Homo sapiens: one gene and its partners. The protein of the gene in region 2 purifies or fractionates together with the protein of the main gene of each other region. This does not show direct contact. Each region holds a gene or a part of one and is shown on either strand. Other genes may lie near its edges. The genes, in order: DDX42, NSRP1, TMEM106B, CDK11B, CCNT1, EPB41L2 and TOX4.

The links.
Region 1: the proteins of NSRP1 (region 2) and DDX42 purify together in Homo sapiens (affinity purification with mass spectrometry, with the first as the bait; one large-scale study listed by BioGRID). This does not show direct contact.
Region 3: the proteins of NSRP1 (region 2) and TMEM106B fractionate together in Homo sapiens (co-fractionation; one large-scale study listed by BioGRID). This does not show direct contact.
Region 4: the proteins of NSRP1 (region 2) and CDK11B purify together in Homo sapiens (affinity purification with mass spectrometry, with the first as the bait; one large-scale study listed by BioGRID). This does not show direct contact.
Region 5: the proteins of NSRP1 (region 2) and CCNT1 purify together in Homo sapiens (affinity purification with mass spectrometry; one large-scale study listed by BioGRID and IntAct). This does not show direct contact.
Region 6: the proteins of NSRP1 (region 2) and EPB41L2 purify together in Homo sapiens (affinity purification with mass spectrometry, with the first as the bait; one large-scale study listed by BioGRID). This does not show direct contact.
Region 7: the proteins of NSRP1 (region 2) and TOX4 purify together in Homo sapiens (affinity purification with mass spectrometry, with the first as the bait; one large-scale study listed by BioGRID). This does not show direct contact.

The regions. Positions count from the first base shown.
Region 1 is NC_000017.11:63,808,670-63,812,169, reverse strand, and holds part of DDX42 (ATP-dependent RNA helicase DDX42), read right to left. Parts: intron 3,351-3,500; coding exon 3,222-3,350; intron 2,611-3,221; coding exon 2,511-2,610; intron 1,658-2,510; coding exon 1,610-1,657; intron 1,095-1,609; coding exon 997-1,094; intron 239-996; coding exon 1-238. UniProt on the Homo sapiens protein: ATP-dependent RNA helicase that binds to partially double-stranded RNAs (dsRNAs) in order to unwind RNA secondary structures. Unwinding is promoted in the presence of single-strand binding proteins.
Region 2 is NC_000017.11:30,182,816-30,186,975, reverse strand, and holds the end of NSRP1 (nuclear speckle splicing regulatory protein 1), read right to left. Parts: intron 2,362-4,160; coding exon 1,302-2,361; 3' UTR 501-1,301; downstream 1-500. UniProt on the Homo sapiens protein: RNA-binding protein that mediates pre-mRNA alternative splicing regulation.
Region 3 is NC_000007.14:12,235,294-12,238,793, forward strand, and holds part of TMEM106B (transmembrane protein 106B), read left to right. Parts: 3' UTR 1-3,500. UniProt on the Homo sapiens protein: In neurons, involved in the transport of late endosomes/lysosomes. May be involved in dendrite morphogenesis and maintenance by regulating lysosomal trafficking.
Region 4 is NC_000001.11:1,656,205-1,660,231, reverse strand, and holds the start of CDK11B (cyclin-dependent kinase 11B), read left to right. Parts: upstream 1-1,227; 5' UTR 1,228-1,318; exon of another isoform or gene 1,319-1,776; intron 1,777-2,733; 5' UTR 2,734-2,746; coding exon 2,747-2,857; intron 2,858-2,929; exon of another isoform or gene 2,930-2,967; coding exon of another isoform or gene 2,968-2,976; intron 2,977-4,027. UniProt on the Homo sapiens protein: Plays multiple roles in cell cycle progression, cytokinesis and apoptosis. Involved in pre-mRNA splicing in a kinase activity-dependent manner. Isoform 7 may act as a negative regulator of normal cell cycle progression.
Region 5 is NC_000012.12:48,699,708-48,703,207, forward strand, and holds part of CCNT1 (cyclin-T1), read right to left. Parts: intron 1,367-3,500; coding exon 1,306-1,366; intron 134-1,305; coding exon 71-133; intron 1-70. UniProt on the Homo sapiens protein: Regulatory subunit of the cyclin-dependent kinase pair (CDK9/cyclin-T1) complex, also called positive transcription elongation factor B (P-TEFb), which facilitates the transition from abortive to productive elongation by phosphorylating the CTD (C-terminal domain) of the large subunit of RNA polymerase II (RNA Pol II).
Region 6 is NC_000006.12:130,864,246-130,867,745, forward strand, and holds part of EPB41L2 (band 4.1-like protein 2), read right to left. Parts: intron 3,337-3,500; coding exon 3,214-3,336; intron 1,390-3,213; coding exon 1,291-1,389; intron 1-1,290. UniProt on the Homo sapiens protein: Required for dynein-dynactin complex and NUMA1 recruitment at the mitotic cell cortex during anaphase.
Region 7 is NC_000014.9:21,490,695-21,494,194, reverse strand, and holds part of TOX4 (TOX high mobility group box family member 4), read right to left. Parts: intron 1,900-3,500; coding exon 1,819-1,899; intron 1,688-1,818; coding exon 938-1,687; intron 1-937. UniProt on the Homo sapiens protein: Transcription factor that modulates cell fate reprogramming from the somatic state to the pluripotent and neuronal fate. In liver, controls the expression of hormone-regulated gluconeogenic genes such as G6PC1 and PCK1.

The DNA of each region.
Region 1 (3,500 bases), about 34 Mb from region 2:
TCTTAAAGTCTGAAATGACCTTGTTTCTCTCACTCTGATCCATATCCCCATGGAGCAGCCCAAGATTATGACCCTCCTGTTTAAGGTTATTCGCTAGCTCTTCAGCATTGGCTTTTTTAGTAACAAAGAGGAGGACACTCCCTGAAGAGGTAAATTCTACCAGACGCCGGGTAAGCCAGTTCCATTTACTAGGTCCAGAATGGAGAATCTCCACAATCTGTGTCACATCTTCATTTGCCTGAGAAGGAAGAAATGAAACAGATGATTGTGACATTGGAGCCACAGGGCACCTGAACAAGGACTAGGCATTATATTTCTACCTGCATCGAGAAGACCTTGAACAATCCCAGTTCTCCTTGGGCCTTCAGCAAGTCAAGTGCAGCTCAAAACTCACCTCTCCTTTCCAATCACCTTGCTCTCCACCTGGTGTACATACCTAATTTGTATGCCCCACTACTTTGTAGAGCTTTCCTTAACAATAACCATGGCAAGCAACTGAAGGATTCTCTAAGCAGCCATAACTGAATTCCAAGTCCCAATTCAGAGTAATTTTTCACATAGCGCATATGTACAGGTAAGAAATGAAACCTGATTTTTTCCAGGCCTTCCAGGTCACCCTTTCCCTCCTGCGTAGGCCCCTACCACAATAATTAAAACGTCAGTTCCAACCTAATACGCTGATGCTTCCAGGCACATCTTTTTGTCTCTTTGAAGCCTTTTTAAAACAATTGTAAGTTTTGAGACATTCAATAAAACAAAAAAAACACAAAATGAACAAAATCAACTCATACCCATCACCTAGCTTCAATGATTCCCAACATTTTGCCAGTCTTGTTACGTCTATCCCCACAACTTGCAAAATACCCAATCTCAAGCATGTTGCATCTATAAACATAACATCTTTTTTTTTTATCTCAATAGTGAGAAATTAATTCTGTGTTCCATAATATGAGAAATAAACCCATTAAGGTCCCATCCAGCCCTGCTTAGGGTTACCTCTCCAATATCTCCCTGCACCACTCGAATAGGGTCGATCAGGATGTCTCTGGCCAACTTTTCAATCTTCTTCCGAAAAGTTGCACTAAATAAGAGAGCTAAAAGGTAAGATAAATTCTGTTAGAGAAACAATATGATATCTTTATGCATACCCATTAAGCTTCTTTGGCATTCAGGATTATTCAGTTTTTTTACATAAGCTCACCTGAACTTTAAATTTAGTTTAGAAACTGATTCACTAGGGAAAGATTTGCTCTTATTCTATTTTTATTACATTTTTAGTTAAGACAAGTTGTCAGTATGGTTCAGAAAAAGACTCTTGATTTCAAATCAGCAGATCTGTACTGTACACTGCTTCTACCCACTGATAAAACTGTATAATTTAGGGCAGTTTATTTAATTTCTGATCCTTGGTTTTATCATCTATAAAAAGGAACAAGTTATATCTAGTGCTAAGATCCTGTCCAGCTCAGATAAACTCATTACCTCCCTTATTATGGTTCTCACCAACAGACACAAGATCATTTTTACTTCCATAACTCTGAGTGCTTATAAAATAAATAAGTGCCCTTTTTAGTACAAATTTGGTTTAACAAAGGTGCTTCATACATACTCTGCCTGTCAGGACGAACATGACTTGCTATGGATCGAACTTGGTACTCTGCAAGAAACAGAACAATAAAATTATTATAACCTGAAATACAGTTTGGGAAGCCTGGAAAAAGCCATATTAGTAAAAGTCTTCATAAGAAGTTGTAAGAATTAAGAAAATTAGAAACCCCAGGCCAGGCACAGTGGCTCATGCCTGTAATCCTAGCACTTTCGGAGGCCGAAGCAGGCGGATCACTTGAGGTCAGGAGTTCGCAGCCTGGTCAACACAGCTATCTCTACTAAAAATACCAAAAAAAAAAAAAAAAAAAAATAGCCAGGCTGTGGGGTAGGTGCCTATCACCCCAACTACTCAGGAGGCTGAGGCAGAAGAATCGCTTGAAACTGGAAGGAGGAAGTTGCAGTGAGATCGCACCGCTGCACTGCAGCCTGGGCAACAAAAGCAAAACTCTGTCTCAAGAAAAAAGAAGCTCCTAAACATATCATTCAGCATAAAAGTGAAAAATTTTCCCTCCATCCAACTGGGCTAGGTCTAGCAGTGTTCCAATCAGTAAAGACAGCTACGAGGATAGGAAAGCAAAGGGCCTCGAATGATCTGACATTCATCTACCCAAGAACACAGACCTTAACCTCTATGATCAAAGGCATATGGATAAAAATGAAGACAGAGAAAATATTCCCCTTATATACAAAGGCACTTTGAAATTTCCTCAACCCAATAAAACCTAACATACTTTTCCAGAGAAAACTCCTAAAAATGTTCATCTTAGCTATATTTCTATAGTCTAACCCCATCCAGGAGTATTTTTAGCTTCTCTCATGCTGAAAAAACAGTCTAGAAAGACATGGAAAAAAAACTAGTATCATGAGGATGGGGACAGAAGAAACTGGTATTCAAGGCATACCAAATCCCATGTCAAACATTCGATCTGCTTCATCAAACACAAGGTAAGAGACTCTTTGAAGATTGGTAGCTTTCTTTTTCACATGATCTATCAGTCGACCCTATAAGATCAACAAAATGAACAGTAAGTATAATTAAAGGCATTCACAGGGACTTTCTAAGCAGTTGCACTCCTGGCAAAAGTGCTAATTCTCTAGTCTCAGACTGTAATAGATACTGGTCCAACAGCCACATACCTTATGCACTACTTAGCTCAAAGGAACAGAAATTTTGAAAACTCAATCGGCATCTTCATTTACACTGTGATTTAAATTCTGTGGGAAAGTGGCCAGAAGCAGTTTTTGAGGCATTCTAAAGTGACCTGATTTAAAGCATAATGACAGGTTTCAATGTTTAAACTACACTCTTCTAGGCTATTCTGACCATATGTATCTTTCTGATTCTTGATGAACTTGGCAATCATTTTGTGGGAGAGTATAAGAAAAACTATTTGACATAGAGGGGAATTTGTAGCTACTAGCCTATATGTCACAGAGACTCTCACTGAACTGCTAATTTAGCCACCAATCAAAATTAAAACCACAGCCTGCCGTTCATCAGTATATTTTCAACCCTGCTTTTACCACACTTTAGGGGAAATTCTCTGCAAAACTAATCATGTTTTCCATACCGAGGGAGGCTGAGAAGCCATTTAAACACAAGGCATACTTACTGGGGTACACACAACAATCTCTGCCCCCTCCTGAAGGGCCTTGGCCTGCTCCCACATACTCCCTCCTCCATATACGGCCACTGATCGAAGATTATATGCTTTTCCAAACCGCTTACATTCTGCATGGATCTACAAAGTTGTGAATAATATATTAACAAACTGTGACACTAACAAATACCTGTCACAACCCAAACGAAGTTCTGAAAAACAGAATGTGATGTCATAAAAAATCGAAACCTAGAACATACTTTAAAACCACGATTTTATTCATAAAGGTAT
Region 2 (4,160 bases):
TATATTTCATCTAGTCAGCATTCTTATTAAACCAAGTTTATCCTTCTAAAAATAAGAAAGTGTGCTCTTTAGGTAGAGTATTGTGAGATATATGAACAGCATTTTCTTAATGGGAAGACCTAGTAGAGAACTATTTTCTCCACAGCATTCATCTTTCCCCATAAATAAAATATTTACAGTGTATAATTATTTCTCCTGAGTTTCAAAGACTCAGAAGAAAGATACTAGTTTTATTTTTATACACAAGTGGAACTTGTAATAAACTGCACTATCTTTTTCAGAGTAGGTGAAACAAGACATGTTTAGAAACAGGCCACCTAGATCTTTAGCTAATTTCATTTAGGCTAATGTCTCCACAGCTTCACCTTTAACTAAAAGTGATTTACATATATAACCAATTTACTAACTTGTCAAGGTTTCAGAATTACAAATTAATTTCTACTAAAAGCGAAAAGATGAATTGTGACATGAGTAAAATTATTTTAAAATAAATGCATAAATAAAATGTATAAGCATATCATTTTATTTTCATTTAAGCCAACTATGCTGTAAGCTATTTAGACAAGATGATTCACATTTTATACTTAAATACAAATTTCAGAACATAAAGTATATTTTCTGTTTTTCAAATCCATATTTTATCTGAAATACATTTCCTGCAACAAAACATTATTAGAAGAGTTAAATTATTTATTTAAAAAAAATTTTTTAGAGACAGGGTCTCATTCTGTTGCCCAGGTTGGAGTGCAGTGGCATGATCATACCTCACTGTAACATCAAATTCCTAGGCTCAAGTGATCTTCTTGCCTCAGCCTCTCGAACAGCTGGGACTACAGGCATGGACTACCATGCTAGGCTTTTTGTTTTTTAAATAGAGACAAGGTCTTATTATCCTGCCTAGGCTGGTCTTGAATGCCTAGCCTCAATATCCTTCTGCCTTGGCCTCCCAAAATGTTGGTATTACAGGCACGAGCTACCGTATCTGGCCAAAATTATTTTTTAATGGTTGTAGTGGAGCAAATTTTCCTCATTATGTACCTACAGGGAATTAGCACACTCTTAACGGTTCTTGAATACAACAAAGAATGTGGTATTGATGAGTACACACTATATATAAATTCAGCCAAACATCCACATCCAAACATCCAAGCTGTAAGACTGACTTTTAACTTAAAATTTTGAAAATAAATTTAAAAATGCCCTCCAAACTACTGGTAACACACTCCTTTATGGTTTTACGCAGCAGGTTCCAGGAATTACAGTTTTCTGTGCTTCCTTAAATCTTTCTCTTGGGGTAGCCATCAATCATCTTCTTTCTCAATATAGGTCTTTGCATTAACCCGCGCCATCTGCCTGGCCAAGTACCTGTCTCTAGCTGACATTACAGTTTCTTCATTGTTCCGCTTTGCAAACTTGCTCACTGCCTCAGGTGGTCTCTCTTGTTCTTTACCCTTCTCTTGCCCTTCCTCTGTGAGTCTGTGTTTTGCTCCCAGTGATGATTCAGAATTAGAGGGTTTCTCTTGGTTTCTTTCTTTGTCCTTTGCCATGTTTCTCATTTTGTTGGATCTTTCTTGGTCAAGAAATTTATCCTTTGCCCTAGAATTTGGGCTGCTTTCCTTTCTGTCTTGATTTCTTTCTGAAGACTGAACACCTACCTCTCGTTTTTCTCTATCTCTGTATTTATCATTATTTTCATATCTTTCCTTCCTTACTTTCATATGCTCTTCCTTTGCTTTGCTTTTCTCTTCCTTCTCTCCTTTCTCACTGGGTCGGTTCTGATCATTTTGTTGTCTATCTCTTTCTTGTTCTCTTTGGGAATATTTCTCCCTATCTTTCTCCCTTTTCCATACTCTGTCACTTCTTTCTCTTTGGTCCCTCGCCCTTGGTTTATCTTCCTGTTCATGCCTCTTCCAATGGGAATCTCTATGACTGGCCTCTCTGTGCCTATGAGAATCCCTTTCTTTCCGGTAATCACGGTCAGTGTAATGGTTCTCTTGGTCTCTGGATTGCTTCTGCTGGTGCTGATCTTCCCTTTTCTCATGTCCTCTCGACGTTCGTGATCCTTTCGTGTGGTGCCTGGTACTGTGCCCTCTTTCTTCACTAGGTGACCGAGAGTGGTTTTGACTCCTGTGGTGCTTGAAGTCATTCTCAGGGGTCTCTATGACCTTTTCCCTTCTGCAGTTCACTCTAGTTTCTTCTATTTCATCATCCGCACTGCTCTTAGCATCGAAGTCACTGTCTGCATCTGGGTTTTCCTCTACTTTCACATCAGTTTGAAGAATGCATTTCTCTTGTGGTATTCTGTTTTTTGAACTTACTTCATTGGAGAAGCCCCTTGATTTTTCTTCCTTTATACCAGATCTTAGAAACAAAAAACAAAAAAGGGCAGAAAAAAATGCCACATTATCAGTTGTAATAAGCAAATGAAGGGTTCATATAATTTTTATCAATACTCAAATCAATACACCTATAGTGATATATACTGTCTGATTATCCAAATGCAAAAAGGTCCTGATGTCTATGCAAACTAGTATTTTCAAATTCATACCATTCAGAATATTTTCAATATTTGTAGAAGTGAAAAGAGAAAATTAGCCCTTGTCTACTATACTACTAGAACCTACAGGCAAGGGTCTGTACAGGTCTTCATTTTTTGGTAAGCCTAAGACAAAGAATAATTGGGAAAAGTAATAAATGTTCTGAATCTAAGTTCTATTTTCACAACATGAAGCTTAAGTTGTGACTGTTGGATTTGTTGTTTCCTTTCTTATTTATTTATTTTGAGACATTCTGTTACCCAGGCTGGAGTGCAGTGGCACAATCTCGGTTCACTGCAACCTCTGCCTCCCAGGCTCAAGTGATCCTCTCACCTTAGCTTCCCGAGTAGTTGGGATTACAGGCCTGCACCACCATGCCCAGCTAATTTTTGTATTTTTAGTAGAGACAGGGTTTTGCCATGTTGGCCAAGCTGGTCTCAAACTCTTGACCTCAGGTGATCCAACCACCCTGGCCTCCCAAAGTGCGGGGATTACAGGTGTGAGCCACCATGCTTGGCCTTTTTCTTTTTAAAAAATTATAAAAATAGTCCTAGAAATACATGAAGATAATCTTTGCACAGCAAAATAGTGGCAAATATAATCCTAAATATTTACTCTCTCTCATGAGTGTATCCTGATTCACTCCTTGGCACCTATCACAACAAAATGGAAATATATTAATTTGTCCATTAGAATCAACAATACTAAAATTATATTACCTTCATTGTTCCAGCTGGCAAGTACAGTTAACTTTATAGTATGAGTATAATGTAAATAAGAACCACTCAGTGATTCTTACTAATCACTTACTAATCACACTAATGGTGCAACAACTTTGGTTCTCCAGGAATTACTGGCAGAACTATCTTGGCTAAAGGACCCACTAACAGTTAGGAATTCGATTATTAGACTCTAAGAAGTACAACTATGTCAACGACATTACAGAGTTTCATGGCAGCCTAATAAATATTCCAGATGAAACTCTAATACAAAGATATAACGTAATATAATTTCCATTCAAAACCTGAATCTTCAAATACATTTTCTTAGGTTCATACTTCTCACCAATTTTATAATCAAAGCCTAGCAGCGTAGGGAGGGAGTGGGGCATAAACTTCCTCTCCTCACCTTAATTCTATTCTCCTACCTCTTCCCTTCCTTAGCAACACAGACTCAGATCTACCCAGAACATTCCTGTTAAAAAAAATTTTTTTTTTTTTGCTTAGGACAGACTCTTTTACCTTCAGCTACATAATTATGGCATAATCATCTCACCATTCCTATAATACCTTATAACTTTATTCAAAAATCCTCTAATCCTTTACCTTCTAGACCAGCATTAATAGAAATGCCTCAAGAAATGGTAATGTTCATATGTGAGCTGTCCCCAGTATGGCAACCACCAGCCAAATATGGCAACTGAGTATATGAAATGTGGCCGCTGTGATCAAAACTTTAAATTTTATTTACTTAATTTTATTATTTATTTATTATTATTATTTTTTGAGACAGAGTCTTGCACTGTCACCCAAGCTGGAGTGCAGTGGCGCAATCTCAGCTCACTGCAACCTCCGCCTCCTGTGTTCACGCCATTCTCCTGCCTCAGCCTCCCAAGTAGCTGGG
Region 3 (3,500 bases), on a different chromosome or scaffold from region 2:
AAGAATAGTATGAAAATATTAGATACCACATAAATTGTTTGAAATTACTGAATAACCATCTTAAGTATGGAACATTTAAATGGCTATATTTTATTTGTGTACAGTTTTTCTGTGCCTTGTTAGGCCAGTGAAGCAATTATTTTCTCTAAGAAAATGACAATAAAATATAACACACTTCAGATTGTCTGATTTACAGTTTGGAAAGGACACCGCAATGTTCAAATAGGTAGGAGACCATCAAAAACACAATTAAAGTAACATATTAGGAGACTTGAAACTTCAGCCTAATAAATCCTTCATGGTTCTTAGCCTTATTATTGTGATATAATTCTAGATATTTTCTTGGAGGGCATGTGCCCAACTCTCCCGCACCCCATTTTGTTTGTCTTTTAAAGTTCTTAGAATAAACAGTTCTTTATATAATAATTATATTTTATTTAAGAAAATAGTTTGTTAGGTACTTTTTAAAAGATGTAAATTTTTAAATTTACAAATACATATGGGTCTTTGATAAGCAATAGGAATTGAATTACAAGTTACTAGGGTTATAAGCAAAAGGTTGCTTACCATAATGTCATTAGGTCACGATTTTTAGCTCACATCTGGAAGCAGCAACTACTTGGCTCAAGTACATATAAGAGTAATTAGTTTTATTCTCTCTTTTTTATAAAATCGGGTTTCAGATGAGATGTTTATCTTAGACTATTTTAGGGAAAAATTTTACATGTTTGAGATGGTGGAGTAAAAAGACTGTTAAACATTTCTTTTAAAAAATTATTTTTACATTACAACAATATATTTATGATGTGTTCAGATCAAAAATTTAACTTCTGTGTCCCAGATCTACTTTCAAAGTGAGATTTTCACTTGTCAGCTTAAATTTCTGACTAGAACTAACATTTGTGTATTTTTGTGCTTAGTCGGAATACAAATTTCACAGTGGATTTTTGAAGTTTGTCCTTAAATTGGATAAAATCAAGTGATTAAAGTTACTAAAGAGATAAAAATGGTAATTTCCATTTTTAAAAGTAATTTGGTTGTGTTTATAGTTATTTGTACAAGTATTTATCACAGACTCTAAATTGAAAAATGTAGTATGATCTATATTTGACCCTAAAAATGTTGGATTAATTTAACAAATATGGCAGATTTTTCATAACTAAGTCTTAAGTCTTCTAAAAGGAAGCTGTTACCCTTCTGTTTTTAATTACATTAATTGAAATGTGTTTTAAGAGATACAATTTCAGCATATTTTATATATTAAAAAACAAAAAAGGATTAGTATTGAGCCAGTGGCCAAAAGGTAATATTACTACCATGTAGACTGTTATAGTTCAAATTGTCCCACTTCACCCAGAATTTTAGAAACTAGAAGTCTGGGAGGTACTATATCAGCTGTAGTTGGGTAATTCCAAGTGCTGATAGTACTATTCATCTTTTTTATTATTGTGTCAGATGAAACAAATGCCAAGTTGCAAAATATGCAGATTTTTATTATATAATGGTTTTAGGCATAAATTATTAACAAGCCATGCCTTATGTGTTTCATCTTATATTTTTCTTTAGAACTAAACTATAACAGATTTTGGAAAATGATTTGACGTGCTTGCTCACTTGATTGACTTGGTCAGATATTTGAATGATGGTATTACCTAGATTCTAATCCTTGATTCTAGTTATATAATAAATAATATAGAATATGAAAATATGTTTGGGCATTTACTGTTTATATTATGTAGTAGCCTCCATCATGACACACTTACTACATTTATGAATTGAGCAGTTCTGTAATTGTAATTATTATTGCTGTTCATGTAACAAAACATGCTTATAATAGCAAACAAATAGAAATGCCCCCAAAATGCTATTTTTTTAATTCAGTTATAACTGTTACTCTTGTAGTTGTGTATGACGCAATAAAATTTGTAAAAAAATTTCAGCATGAAAAATAAAATTTGTATCACTTATGTATTTTGGCTATGCTTTTGAAATTTCCTTAACATAAACAAATCAGTGTAGATATTCAAAATCTTTTACCTTTAATCCTTTTCATCCTTATAGTCCTTACCTGAACTCTACTTTAGCATTATCTTTGATTTCTTTTTTTCATTCACTTAACTTCCAATCAGTACTCAAGCTTTATCCATTCTACCTCTGTAATGTCTCTGGAATTTATCTCATACGTGAAATTTCCCTTGATATTATAGACATACCTTGGATATATTGCAGGTTTGGTTCCACACCATATCGATAAAGTGATATAATCAAGCAAGTTACACACCTTTTTTTGGTTTCCCAGTGCATATGAAAGTTATGTTTACATCATACTGTAGTCTATTAAGTGTGCAATAGCATTATGTCGAAAAACACAATATATATGCCTTAATAAAAAATAGGCTGTGTGCAGTGGCTCACACCTGTAATCCCAGCACTTTCGGAGGCCAAGGTGGGAGGATCACCTGAGCCCAGAAGTTCAAGACCAAATTGGTCAACATGGCGAGACCCCATATAAAATATATACATACACACACACACACACACACACACACACACACACACACACTATTGCTAAAAAATGTTAACGATCATCTGAATGTTCAGAAGTTTATACTCCTTTTGCCGGCACAGGATCTTGTCTGGATGTTGTTTGCTGATAGATCCATGTAGTGGTTACTAAAGTTGGGGTGGCTATGGCAATTTCTTAAGACAACAATGAAGTTTATCACATCTATTGCCTTGTCCTTTCATGAAAGATGTCTCTAGCATGTGATGCTGTTTTGATAGCATTTTACCAATGGTAGGTCTTTTTTCAAAATTGGAGCCAGTCCTCTCAAACCCTGCCTCTGCTTTATCGACCATGTTTAAATAATTTTCTAAATTCTTTATTGTCATTTCAGCAGTGGTCTCAGCATCTTCACCAGGAGTAGATTCCAACTCAAGAAACCACTTTCTTAGCTCATTCATAAGAAACAATTCCTCATCTGTTCAAGTTTTGGCATCAAGTTGTAGCAATTCAGTCACATCTACAGACTCCATTGCTAAATTTTAGTTCTCTTGCTATTTCCACATCTGCTGTGACTTCCTTCACTGAAGTCATGAACCCCTCAAAATTATCCATGAGAGTTGAAATCAATTTCTTTCAAACTCCTGTTAATGTTCATATTTAGACCTCTTCCCCTGAATCACAAATGTTGTTAATGGCATCTAGAATGGCAAATCCTTTCTGGAAGGTTTCAATTTACTTTGCCCAGATCCATCAGAGGAATCACTACCTATGACAGCTATGGTCTTACAAAATGTATTTCTTATATAGTAAGATTCAAAAGTCAAATTTACTCCCTGATCCATGGCTGCAGAATGCACGTTGTGTTAAGAGGCATGAAAACAACATTAATCTATTTGTACATCATCAGAGCTGTTGGGTGACCAGGTACATTGTCAATGAGTAGTAATACTTTGAAAGGAATTTTTTTTTCCAAGCAGGTCTCAACAATGGGCTT
Region 4 (4,027 bases), on a different chromosome or scaffold from region 2:
AAGAGCTTGGGTACACAAAGCAAGCAGCATTTCATTCCGGGATGAAAAAAATTCCGATACCCATCGCCCTTCTTGGGCCCTTGTCAGTTTCTTGCCACATCTTTCATTTTCCCATTTCAGGCCCAGTAAATGCGGATGTTTATCTTCCATTGTTTGTTTCCTGAGATTCAGATGTCTAAAGCATTTTTCTGTGACTTTTCAAGTCAAGAGGAAAACCTGACATATGGAAAGGGAATTAATTGCTCGTTTTATCCTCTTCTCCTGCAATGCTCTGAATCCATGGGTTTGGAGTGGGGCCCTGGGAGTTGGGGGAAGCACCATACCCAGTGAGTCTGCACTTTGAGGACCCACTGCCAGTGTCAGCTTCAAAATCACATTGTAAAAGGCCGGGCGCGGTGGCTCACGCCTGTAATCCCAGCACTTTAGGAGGACGAAGCGGGCGGATCACTTGAGGTCAGGAGTTCGAGACCAGCCTGGCCAATATGGCGAAACCTCGTCTCTACCAAAAATATAAAAATTAGCCGGGCGTGGTGGCGCGGGCCTGTGGTTCCAGCTACTCGGGAGGCTGAGGCAGGAAAATTCCTTGAACCCGGGAGGAGGCTGCAGTGAGCCAAGACCACGCCACTGCACTCCAACCTGGGCGGCAGAGCAAGGCTCCGACTCAAAAGTAAATACATGAATAAATAAAATAAAATCACATCGTAAGAGCTCTCCCTGCCCTGTTTCTGAGTAAGGTTCAGAGTTAAATTCCGAGATCGGCCTTTACAAGACACACAGACCTGAGGCGCCTCACGAGGTAACCAGCAGGTAAATGGAGCGCGCTCCACCCACCCGCCACTAGGGGTCCCAGCGGTCAAGGGGGTGGAATGCGGGCGTCCATCGCGAAGGCATTCTGCTCGCAAGCCTTGGCACAGGCGCGGGCTTCGCTACCGGAAAAGTCCCGGTAGGATTCCGGAAGCCGGCCACGCGTTCCGCGCAGGCGCAAACTGCTCCAAAAGTGGGCGTCGCTCCTCCGGAGTCCCGATTCCTGCGTCACAGCCCGCGCCGAAGTCGGAAGTGCGCTCACCGGGCTGTTTCTTCTGGCGTCCTGGACCTGAGCAAGCGCTGTTTTATGCGTTATCATCCCGCGCAGACACAGGAAGTGCCGCACAGAGCGAGCCCCTGTCGTTGTCTCGAGTTCTGGGCCGGAGGTCGGCTATTATATCATCATTACGCGCCAATACAGGAAGTGACGATACTTTTGGCGCGCGCCGGTTGCTGTTTCTTCTCTGGCTCCGGGACCGGCGGCGGCGGCGGCGGCAGCGGCGGCGGCGTAGGGGTGAGTTCCGACTGGGCGGACCAGGTGTGGGAGCGCGAGGAGAACTGCGCACCGAGGTCTTTCTTCCGAGCAGGCCTCGGAGCGGGGCGGACCCGGGCCCGGGGGCGAGCGACACCCTCGCTTCCGCGGACAGTCTCATCCCGCACGGAACTTTGGGTGGTGGAGGCGGCGGGTCCAAACGCTGTCTGGAGCCAACGTCTGCCAGGCTGAACCTCAAGTGTGCGGGACTGAACCCGAGGAAATAGCCCAGTGCCCGGGTCAGGTGGCCTTGTTCGCGAGCACATCTCGGAGCATCTCCCCGGTCTCAAGGTGCAGCTGTCCAGTGTGCTAGTGGCTTCACGTAGTCCAAGCGGTCTTTCTAGCAGATTCTGACAGTAAAAGCAGTGTTTGATGAGTGGCAGGTCCTGAGTTAAGAGCCTTTAAACGGATGATCTTTAATCCGCGATCGATACTATCACGTAGGTGTTGTTATTCTGGTTGTACGGAAGACTAAACTGAGGTGAATTACGTTACCCAAGACCATACAAGAATGACAGAAACGAGACTTGATTTCAAGCGGTCATTTTTCAGAACCCATCACTCTTTTTTGTCGCCCATGCTGCAGCGCAGTGGCTGTTCACAAGCGCACTTCAGCCTGGAACTCCTGGGCTCAATCGGTCTCCCATCTCAGCTTGCAGAGTATATGGGACTACAGGCGCTCGCCACCTTGCCTGGCTTACAACTTATCATTCTTGTTTTTTTTTCTTTTTTTTTTGAGACGGGGTCTTGCTGGAGTGCAGTGACGCGACCTCGGCTCACCGGAACCTCCGCCTTTCGGATTCAAGCGATTCTGCTGCCTCGGCCTCCCGAGTAGCTGGGATTACAGGCACCCGCCACCACGCCCAGCTAAGTTTTGTATTTTTAGTGGAGACAGGGTTTTCGCCGTGTTGGCCAGGCTGGTCTTGACCTCCTGACCTTGTGATCCACCCGCCTCAGCCTAGAGCTTACTTTTTTTTTTTTTTTTTTTTTTTTAACCAAGTCTTACTTTGTTATCTAGGCTGGAGTGCAGTGGCGCAGTCTTGGCTCATTGCAGCCTTGACCTCTCTGATTCAAGTGATCCTCCTGCCTCTAGCAGCCTCCTTCCTGTAGCTAGGAATACAGGCACGCGCCACCACACTGGGCTAACTTTTGTATTTTTTGTAGAGACGAGGTTTTGCCATGTTGCCCGGGCTGGTGTTGAACTCCGGAACTCCAGCGATCTGCTCGCCTCGGCCTCCCAAAGTGCTAGGGTTACCGTCTTGAGCCACTGCGCCGGGCACAACTTCTTATTCTTAATGAGGATTTATTCTGAATCCCTCAAAAGTGACTAGGTTCAAGTGTTCAGCACCATAGCTTGCTGTGTCCTGATGTAGGCTGAATTATTTTTCTTTTTGCAGTGTTTTAACTCAAATGGGTGATGAAAAGGACTCTTGGAAAGTGAAAACTTTAGATGAAATTCTTCAGGAAAAGAAACGAAGGAAGGAACAAGAGGAGAAAGCAGAGATAAAACGCTTAAAAAATGTAAGCCATATTTTTTAAGTAAGTGGTTTTCTTAAAGGAGATTTAATTTCTTTGCCCTCATTTTTCCATTAGAACAACGCTTCTTCGGTGAAGTTCTTTTGTACTTCCAAATGTCGCAGGTGAGCCCAAAATCTATTCTAAAAATTAACAAAAACATTCAAATATTCAGTTGACATTAAAGGCAGATTTAACACACTAAAGCTGTGTCTAGATTGAGCATACATGGAGAATAAAATACGTTGAATGTTAAGTCATTAGCAAAACTGGACTAATTTTTCTCGGTTCATTAGTATGTTCATAATACTATCTCTAAGTATTTTTAATATAGTGGGAACTTGCCTTGAAATTAATATAAATATTTTACATCTTTCTTGGTTTGCATGGTAATGTACTCAGGAAACCTTTTTAGTAATTTGGTAAGAGGCATTGGCAAAGTACCTCTTTTGCTAAGATCTTTAGCAGCATCATTTGGGATGTTAGTGAGTACAGGCATACCTTGTTGTATTGCACTTCACTTTATTATGCTTCACAGATATTGAAATTTTTCCAAATTAAAGGTTTGTAGCAACTCTGCATTGAGCATTTTTCCAATAGCATGTGCTCACTTTGTTAGCTTTTTTTTTGTTTTTGAGACGGAGTCTCGCACTGTCGCCCAGGGCCGGGTTCACGCCATTCTCCTGCCTCAGCCTCCCAAGTAGCTGGGACTACAGGGGCCCACCAACATGCCAAGCTAATTTTTTGTATTTTTTAGTAGAGATGGGGTCTCACGGTGTCAGCCAGGATGATCTTAATCTCCTGACCTCATGATCCACCCACCTCGGCCTCCCAAAGTGCTGGGATTACAACAGGCATGAGCCTCCGCGCCCGGCCTTTTTTGTTTGTTTTTGAGACAGTCTTGCTCCATTGCCCAGGCTGGAGTGCAGTGGCATGATCTCAGCTAACTGCCACCTCTGCCTCCTGTGTTCAAGCAGTTCTCCTGTCTCAGCCTCCTGAGTACCTGGGACTACAGGCACCTGCCAGCACGCTCGGCTAATTTTTATATTTTTAGTAGAGACGAGCTTTCACCTTGTTGGTCAGGCTGGTCTGGAACTCCTGACCTCAGGTGATTCACCTGCCTCACCCAGCCTCCCAAAGTGCTGGGATTACAGGCGTGAGCCACCATGCCTGACC
Region 5 (3,500 bases), on a different chromosome or scaffold from region 2:
TCCACCACAAACCACAACCTCTAAATGGGAAAACAGCTTGAGATAGTCTTCATAAGCTGGGATTCCTTACCTCGAACAAGTTGAGTGCACTTTACTACATGAGTATGTGGGTGATCAATTGTTAGTTCAAAGCCTTAAAAGAAAAAGTAATGGATTAAAAAACTATTAAGAAGTTTACATTTTACAAATTATTGTAAAAGGATAACTGATTGTAAATTACACCTTACTGGTTTCCACACTAAAATATTAATAGAAATTTATTCCACCAGAAAAACATCATTGTCCCATGAAATATAATTTGAAGATATTTTAAGAAAAAAGTTAACTAGAGGCTGGGCGCGGTGGATCAAGCCTGTAATCCCAGCACTTTGGGAGGCCGAGGCGAGCGGATCACAAGGTCAGGAGATCAAGACCATCCTGGCTAACACGGTGAAACCCTATCTCTACTAAAAATACAAAAATTTAGCTGGGCGTGGTGGCGGGCGCCTGTAGTCCCAGCTACTCTGGAGGCTGAGGCAGGAGAATGGCGTGCACCCAGGAGGCGGAGGTTGCAATGAGCCAAGATTGTGCCACTGCACTCCAGCCTGGGCGACAAAGCAAGACTCCGTCTCAAAAAAAAAAAAAAAAGAAAAAGAAAAAAGTTAACTAGAATAAATTGAGAGATAAACTTTGAAGAACTCATCATATATATATATGTACAAAAAAAATTGTGTCTACGCCAATAACTTTGACGTACAACTCATGAAATCTTACCCTACCTAGAAGAGAAAAATGATAGCCCAAAAGAACCAGGAAAAAAAAAATCTGTATTTTCATATTTTCTAAACTTCTAAAGGCAGCCTGTGTGATGAAAATAACAGATAATAACACAATATCATCAGAGTTGCCCATGCAACCACTAAAGCTTAAGTTCCCCCACTTTCACTCTGCTGTTCTAAACACTAGTTACCAATTTTAAAAACAAATGCTGTTACAGGCCATAACAATCCACGGAAGGAAAAACATTCTTTAGATAGTTTTTATAATTTTTGGGGGTAAAAATCACCAAAACTTAAAAAGCAAATAACCCTAGAATGAAAAAAATAATAACCCACTGGCTGCTGTTTCAAAGGTCAGCTGTACTACCTGCATTCACTCTATGGAACAGGTCAAAGCTAAACTCAGGTCTACAACCTCTATCATCTGGAAACAGAGGGACACTACAAAAACTTTCCCAAGAAATATTCTTCCTATATAGCAAATTTTTAGAATCAAATCATTTTATTGCATAATTTAAAAAAATGTTTCAAAGGAAAATAAACTTACCTAAAGTCTGCAAAATTATGCTTTCTAAAATGACCAGATCTTGAACTTGTTGCAAATAAGCCTAAAAGTGAGAAGACAGAAATTATTCCCTACAAAGGCACAATATATAAAGTATAAACAATTCTAACAATCCCTTCCAGGGAAACCAAAACAATAAAAGGCATGAGTGGAGTTAGGAGGTAGAGTTAAGAACTGAAATACAATCTTTTTTTTTTTTTTTTTTTTTTTTTTTAGACAGAGTCTCCCTCTGTCACCCAGGCTGGAGTGCAGTGGTGTGATCTCGACTCACTGCAACCTCCACCTCCCTGGTTCAAGCAATTCCCCTGCCTCAGCCTCCCAAGTAGCTAAGATTCCAGGCGCGCAACACCACGCCCGGCTAATTTTTTTGTGAAATACAATCTTTATCCCTTATGCCCATTCAGTACACATTTTCTTTAAAAAATAAATAAATAAGTAGTATGCTGAGAGGTAACAGTTTATATATGGCTACAGAAAAAGCACCATATATTTGGTTCATTTTCAGGTTAATATTTAAGTTTTATGGTTCATGTGATTTAGAGAAAAGAAAATTAAAAGTATGTATTTTTTGCTTTTCTTTTTTCTTTTTTTTTTGAGTTGGAGTTTCGCTCTTGTTGCCCAGGCTGGAGTGCAATGGCACAATCTCGGCTCACCACAACCTCTGCCTCCCGGTTCAAACAATTCTCCTGCCTCAGCCTCCCGAGTAGCTGGGATTACAGGCATGCACCACCACACCCAGCTAATTTTGTATTTTTAGTAGAGACGAGGTTTCTCCATGTTGGTCAGGCTGGTCTCAAACCCCCAACCTCAGATGATCCGCCCACCTCGGCCTCCCAAAGTGCTGGGATTACAGGCGTGAGCCACCGCACCCGGCCTTTTTTTTTGAGAGGGAGTCTCGCTCTGCTGCTCAGGCTGGAGTGCAGTGGCGCGACCTCGCCTCACTGCAACCTCTGCCTCCCAGGTTCAAGCGATTCTCCTGCCTCAGCCTCCCGAGTAGGTGGGATTACAGGAGCCCACCACCACGCCCGGCTAGTTTTTGTATATTTAGTAGAGACGGGGTTTCACCATATTGGCAAAGCTGGTCTTGAACCCCTGACCTCAGGTGATCCACCCGCCTCAGCCTCCCAAATTGCTAGGATTACAGGCATGAGCCACCGCGCCTGGCCATAAAGTATATATTTTTCAACATCACCAAAATACATTTGCAGAACCTTCCTACAGTACTGTAAGCATTTAATACCAAACATTTGGCTCCTATTAGAACTTCCCCTTTGGGGCCATGTTAGGTTTCTAAAAAGTAACAGAAGAGTTCAAAGGAAAAGGTAATAAGAAAATTCACTCAGATTTGTGCCAGCCAAAGCTATAGCCACTAGCCACATGTAGCCATTCATCACTTGAAATGTAGCTAAATTGAAACGTGCTATAACCATAAAATACACTGGATTTTTTAGACAGTTAAAAAATAAAGAATGGGCCGGGTGCGGTGGCTCACGCCAGTAATCCCAGCACTTAGGGAGGCCAAAGCAGGTGTATCACGAGGTCAGGAGTTCAAGATCAGCCTGGCCAATATGGTGAAACCCTGTCTCTATTAAAAATACTAAAAAATTAGCTGGGTGTGATGGTGGGCGTGAACCTTGGCTTGTTCCATAGAGTGAATGCAGGTAGTAATCCCAGCTATTCAGGAGGCTGAGGCAGAGAATTTCTTGAACCTGGGAGGTGGAGGTTGCAGTGAGCTGAGATCGCACCACGGCACTCCGGCCTGGGTGACAGAGCGAGACTCCATCTCAAAAAAAGAAAAAAAAAATGTAGCTAGGCATGGTTGCTCACACCTGGAATTCTAACACTTTGGGAGGCCAGTATGGGAGGATTCTTTGAAGGCCAAGAGTTCAAGACCAGCCTGGGTAACATGGTAAGACCCCTATCTCTACAAAAAAATAAAAATTAACTGGGAGTGGTGGCACGCAGCTATAGTCCTAGCAACTTGGGAGGCTGAGGTGAAATGATCACCTGCTCTTTATGAGAATCTAATGCCTGATGATCTGTCACTGTCTCCCATCACCCGTAGATGGGACCATCTAGTTGCAGGAAAAGAAGCTCAGGGTGGCCGGGTGCAGTGGCTCACACCTGTAATCCCAGCACTTTGGGAGGCCAAGGCGGGCGGATCACAAGGTCAAGAG
Region 6 (3,500 bases), on a different chromosome or scaffold from region 2:
TGGTTTTGACTGATGGATTCTGAGCATACAAATTTATTTGCTGATTTTGTTTATTGCATTTAGTGCAATAATTTTAAAAAGGATTTGCTTTGGTTTCAGATACGGAAGATGGATGAGATTTTTGTTGAATGTTTGATTTGATGACACCCTGCGTAAGTAGTCATACACGTAGACATGGCGCATGGCTAGACAAAGGCTGCGAGCGGGGCTGGAGGAGGGAGCTCCTGGGGGAACTGCCTCACAGCGTTATGGGCTCCGTACAAGCTGCGAGTGCCTGGGGCACACTGGATGAGGCTGAGGAGATCATCTGGCTGTGACCTTCTAAACAGTCAATAAGCAAATACCACACGGTCCTGGGAAAGCGCACATCCAACATTTACAACTCTGATAAATGTACACTCTCAGTCACAAGTGACAGCATTTTACCATAACAAACCAGGCTTATCACTATGCTTAATAACTGGATATGCTTTAAAATGAGCACCAACAGTACCTTGCATTTATGCGGCATTTTTAAATTTACAAATTACTTTTGCTGTTTTTTAAATTGTTGTTGAAACATGGGTTGGGAAGGGCACAAGGGACACCTTTAAGACCTTTAGACACTTATCCAAAGTAAAAAACAGAAGAAGGAAATAGTGGAAAATAAGGCTGGAGTTAGAAAGCTGATGACTTCAGCATGCATCAGAATCACTGGAAGCTTCTTAAGACAATTCTAAGGTTTCAGGAGGACTGGAGTGGGGCCACGCTATTTATACTTCTAACAATGCCCCGGGTGAAGCTGATGCTGCTGATCCAGGGATGACTGGTTACCCAGTGCTAAACATTTAGAGAATTATGCAGGGAGGAACAGGGGAATGCCCCAAATCAGTATACTAGCGATCTTAAATGAGGGAAATTCTACATTATTTGAACAACTTGCTGAAAATTCTGAATGATGGCCTTCATTCATTCGCTTTAGTCAGGAGGGCTGGTTTAATAAAAGTAGAAGCACAAGTTTGTTTTTATAAATTATAAATTTTATTAAATTATTTATGGTTTTGTAGCTATCTTACATATAGCTATTCGTAACATATTTTTACCCCCTTGTACTTCACAAAATTGCAATTTGGCTTGAATGCATTTGTCAATGGAGCCTAATTTCTTGGATACTTTAAACCAAGGCATTTTGATTCCGCTGGCACTGTCTGTATCTTACTTGGAAGTGTGTACAGGAAGAGAGAAACAATTCAGAAAAGATTCTGTCTGTAATGTACCATCCTCTCCATATGATCCCCTGCATTGCTTTACCTTGGTGATGTGTGTGGTTGTCGTTGTTGACACGGACTCAGATGTGATGGTTTGTGCGGTCAGTAACGTGCCCGAATCACCACCAGCCCCGCCATCAATCTTTGGATAGTTGGGGGAAAAATACAAAGTAATGCTTAACTTCTGTTATGTTGTCAGAGAAGATCCCCGCCCCATCGAATATGCATCTTTTAAAATCCATGTGGTTTGCGTGTTTGCAGTAGTAATTACCATCCAGGAGAGCGGCTGGTATTTGAAACCGAGTAGAGGCAAAAGGCTAGGTGCACATGGAGAAGCAAACTCAACTGTGTGAGTGGAGAAAAGAGAGGAGAATGGACATAGTAGGTGGGACTGAAAGCTACAAGGGAATTATGACAGAATTTGTCTGAAGGACTTTTGCACAAGCTAGAAAATGAAACTAGAGAGCCAGGCAGAGAAGTTTCCACAGTGACCAGAAGCGCTGAGTTTGTTGTTTTTTAAGCACAGGTGGGTAAAAATAGATAAACATTTTATCAAATTACCAAGCAACAGAACCTGACCAGGACAAACTGAATCTGCATGATTTGGTTATCTGCTTACCTCTAGCGATTGTTTTCATCAACTACATTGTTCCTGTAATAGTTTGCATGTTGTGAGCATATATACGGGCACATATATTTCAATACTGCACATACGCATGTGCTCCTACATATATATAAATCCCATACATATGTTAAAATAGATTTTAACTTGTTTGCTTTGATATTGAAAGATGCAGAAGATTCTAGAGTTTCCAAGGGGAATCAATGAAGCAAATTAATAGCCTAACAGTTTATGTTAAGATCACGAAACATATTTGCCCTCTGTTTCCTGACACTGACACGAGGAAATAACTGGACGGTCCAGAGCCTTTCTGACTGTAAGAGGAAATCTCTTTCAAACTTGGGTCATGCACCTGTATGTCTTCATTCTGGCAACTTATCACAGCACAGACACATCACTAATGCTCCCCCGCCAAGCTGTTCATAAGAAACCTATTTGTGCTTATGTGGGATCAAGGCACACACAAGGATGCCATATCCAAAATAATTTTCAGATGTGTTTCACACATGCATGCATTAAACCTTTTAAAAAATATTCTGAGAGGTCAATAACCTGACATCCTCCACCATGATACAATTCTACCACAGAAGGTTCATCTTCTAAGTGGAGAAAATATTTATTTTATATTCTATTTTGAAATCATGAATGCTTTATCTTTTTTTGTTATTCTTAAGGTTAAACATCTTAATGCTTATTCCAAATCTTTACAGAACCAATGTGTGAAAACCTAAAATCAAACACACAAATCTGATAATTATTTAGACACATGGTATCACCATTCACATATGAATGACTACATAGGTCTTTAGAAAATAATTCCACACGAAGGAGAAGCACAGGTGTGTGTGCCTGTGTGTGTTTGTGTGTGTGTGTGTGTGTATGTGTGTTATTACAAGCAAGAATGAGTTGATTGGGTCAATCTTCACGGAGTTAGAGAGGGAAAGAAGCCTAAATCACATCCACAATTAGATCGGATTATTATTAATCGATGAATTATATCAGATAAACTTTGCAAGACAATTTGTTTCCTAAGTGTACACAAACATTCTTAGATATGTCAACTCAGAAATGGCTTTCAATCATATGAACAAGATTGATACTGTCTGTCCTAAATAATCATATGTACAGTTCCCCTATAATTACTGGGTTACCAATTTAATTGCAGCTCTCTGTCTCAATCTAAGAGAACATAGCAAATTATGTTGTTGAAGTACACTTACAAAGTGCAGATACAAAAAGCTACATCAAAGCCAGAAACATGTAAACTAAGAGAAGAAAGAATGAAAACATAGATACACTAAGGGAAAAAAGAGCTCGAACAGTCCAAGTCTAGAGCTTTTGTACCTGTGGAGACTCATATGTGATGGTTTTGGTCTCAGTTTGGACAATGGGGACTTCCTTGGTGGAGATTTCTGTCCTTTGTGAGGCATCAGAAATTGTTACCATCTCTGTTTTTACCACTGGTGGCTGAGGTGGAAAAGGAAGGGAAAAATAAATTCTAGAGGTAATAAAGTAAAAGTGTTTAATGGAACCTTCACAAATAATAGTAAGAAACATATCCAAACACACACTCATGCACAAAAGAAAAGAGTAAAAGCAAACAACCTAAAACAAACAAAAGAAATAAAAGA
Region 7 (3,500 bases), on a different chromosome or scaffold from region 2:
ATGTCCAAAGTTTAGGATCCTTGGGTAACAACTCTGAATAATAACTGTTTAGGCTATATCCTGTCCAGTTGAACTAGTGACCTCTGCTTAGTTAAGGAGTGGTCTGGGGCAGAAGACTGTCTTAATGTATCTCACTAAAAACACTATGGGGCACACGGTGGCTCACGCCTGTAATCCCTGCACTCTGGGAGGCCGAAGCGGGCGAATCACGAGGTCAGGAGTTCAAGACCAGCCCAATGAACATGGTGAAACTCTGTCTCTAATAAAAATACAAAAAATTAGCTGGGTGTAGTGGTGGGCGCCTGTAATCCCAGCTACTCGGGAGGCTGAGGCAGGAGAATCACTTGAACTAGGAGGTGGAGATTGCAGTGAGCCAAGATTACACCACTGCACTCCAGCCCAGGCAACAGAGCGAGACTCCGTCTCAAGAAAAACAAAACAAAACAAAACAAAACAGGGCGGGTGCAGTGGCTCACACCTGTAATCCCAGCACTTTGGGAGGCCGAGGCAGGCAGATCACCTGAGATCAGGAGTTCGAGACCAGCCTGACCAACATGGAGAAACCGTCTCTACTAAAAATACAAAATTAGCCGGACATGGTGGCACATGCCTGTAATCCCAGCCACTCGGGAGGCTGAGGCAGGAGAATCTCTTGAACCCAGGAGGTAGAGGTTGCAGTGAGCCGAGATCGCACCATTGCACTCCAGCCTGGGCAATGAGTGAAACTCCATCTCAAAAACAAACAAACAAAAAAAAAACAGTATGAGTACCTTGGGTAAGAGAAGTCAACTGCTGCAAGGAACTCCCATCTGCAGGATGTTTTGTGCTCCTGGTTGCTGGGCATTAAATGCTAGTAGCAACCCCCACTGTTATTGGGTCAACCAAAAACATTTTTATACATTTCCACTAGACTAAAGACTTAAAAACAAAGGCTCACCTCAGGAACTACATCTGTGATCATCTCACAGATAGTCTCAGGAGAAGGTGCCTCCACTGTATGGGCCTCAGGGCTGTTGTTCATAGGCCGCTCAGGACTACTTTCCACAGTTGGTGGGACTAAGGTAGTCTGCATTTTCAAAGTGGGTAGAGGCACACTCTTGATCTGCAGAGGAGGAGGCTGTTGCTGTAAATTGATTCGAACTTTCTGAGGTGGAGGCTGTTGCATGGCCTGGAGTGGAGGAGGCTGCTGCAGAATGGTAACTTGCTGCTGAGTCGGGGGCTGTGGCATCTGTTGTAATGGAGGGGGCTGTAGTCGGGGTGGAGGCAGTTGCATAGAAGCAGCAGCAGCAGCAGCTGCTGCTGCCTGCAACACTGACCGAGTGACAATCTGGGCTTGTTGACTGGGCTGGATAGTAGCTGTACTGGTTTGGCCTAGTTGGAGCCCCCGGGAGGTCACCACTGTGGCTGGGATAACAGTAACCATCCCTCCTTGAGACATAGTAATAGAAGAGGGCAACATTTGTTTGGTAATAATCAACTTGGTGATATTGGGCTGACCCCCAGCTCCAGAAGATGCCTGGTTTGCCACATAGGATGAAAGGGTGGAGTTAACAACAATGGATGGGGACAGGGCAGGGGGCTCTATTGAAGCTGGTGCTGGAGATGCTGGGTCAACAGTAGCCATAGGAGGTGGAGAAGGAGTTTGTGATGGTGGTGCTGGATCCAATTCCACTGTTTCCACAGTGGCCTAAAAGAAGACATAAATCAATCTATCAATTAATCAATCACTTGGTGGTATTTACTTCTTAAAACTGCTAACAAACACTTCCAAAAAACTTCTTACTGGTTTAAATATTCATTCTATCCTATCCCTCTTACCTGACACTCCTGGTTGTCTTTGTAAGCAGCCAGTGCCTTCAGATACTCTTTCTTGGCAGCCTCAGTTTTCCTCTTATATACCTGCAAAAAAGAGACTTTAAAAAAAAAAACAAAACTCCCCATACTCTTAGGAAAGACTGATAGTTCTGTATTATTTATCAATGAATGACAATTCATCTTAGTCTAATCACTGACAACCTCTATCAGTGAATTCAATTCTGAAAGCTAACAGTCAAGACAACCTCCATGGCAGACTCACTCCACTGAGCATACCTCTGAAAGACAACCAATCGACAGGAGTCTGGCAAGAATAGCTACATTTATTTTATTTTGCTACATTTATTTTATTTTTTTTAAATTTTTTTTGAGACAGAGTCGTGCTCTCTCGCCCAGGCTCGAGTGCAGTGGCGTGATCTTGGCTCATTGCAAGCTCTGCCTCCCAGGTTCATGCCATTCTCCTGCTTCAGCCTCCTGAGTAGCTGGGACTATAGGCACCCGCCACCACGCCCGGCTAATTTTTTGTATTTTTAGTAGAGATGGGGTTTCGCTGTGTTAGCCAGGATGGTCTCGATCTCCTGACCTTGTGATCCGCCTGCCTCTGCCTCCCAAAGTGCTGGGATTACAGGCGTGAGCCACCACGCCTGGCCGAGAATAGCTACATTTAAGGCAAACATCAACCCATGCTCACTTCTGTAACAAAAATAAACCCTAATCTGCCAGGTGCGGTGGCTCACGCCTGTAATCCCAGCACTTTGGGAGGCCAAGGTGGCCAGATCACGAGGTCAGGAGATTGAGACCATCCTGGCTAACCTGGTGAAACCCGATCTCTACTAAAAAAAACAAAAACAAAACTAGCCCGGCGTGGTGATGGGCGCCTATAGTCCAGCTACTCAGGAGGCTGAGGCAGGAGAATGGCGTGAACCTGGGAGATAGAGCTTGCAGTCAACCAAGATTGTGCTACTGCACTCCAGCCTGGGCGACACAGTGAGACTCTGTCTCAAAAAAATAAATAAATAAATACAAAATAAACCCTAATCCAAAAACTGTGTCTTAGCCTGGGACTGTGTCTAACCAGTATATTTTCCCTTATGGAATGTGGTAAATTGTTTGCAAAGATGGCCACAACAACTCCTCCCATATGACCTTTCTCCCTTCAAGAGCTGAAGCCTATTTCCCCCTCCTTTGAATCTGGGCTAGCTCTAAAAAGTTTTTAAACTCTAAATCCAAAAAAGAAAAAGAAAGAAAAAAAATAGGCCAGGTGCGGTGGCTCACACCTGTAATCCCAGCACGTTGGGAGGACAAGGCAGGCGGATCACCTGAGGTCAGGAGTTTGGCACCAGCCTGACCAACACGGTGAAACCCTGTCTCTACTAAAAATACAACATTAGCTGGGTGTGGCGGCACATGCCGGTAATCCCAGCTACTTGGGAGGCTGAGGCAGGAGAATCACTTGAACCCAGGAGGTGGAAGTTGCAGTAAGCTGAGATTGCACCACTGCACTGCAGCCTGGGTAACAGGAGCGAAATTCCATCTCAAAAACAAACAAACAAGTAATTCTAAATCCAAACTTGGTAGTGGATTTGAGAGTTAGCCACAGCATGCAGCTTATCAAGTAATAGCCTAATTTTATAAATGGGGGAAAAAATGAGACTTAGAAAAGTTAAATATCTAAAAATTGAACA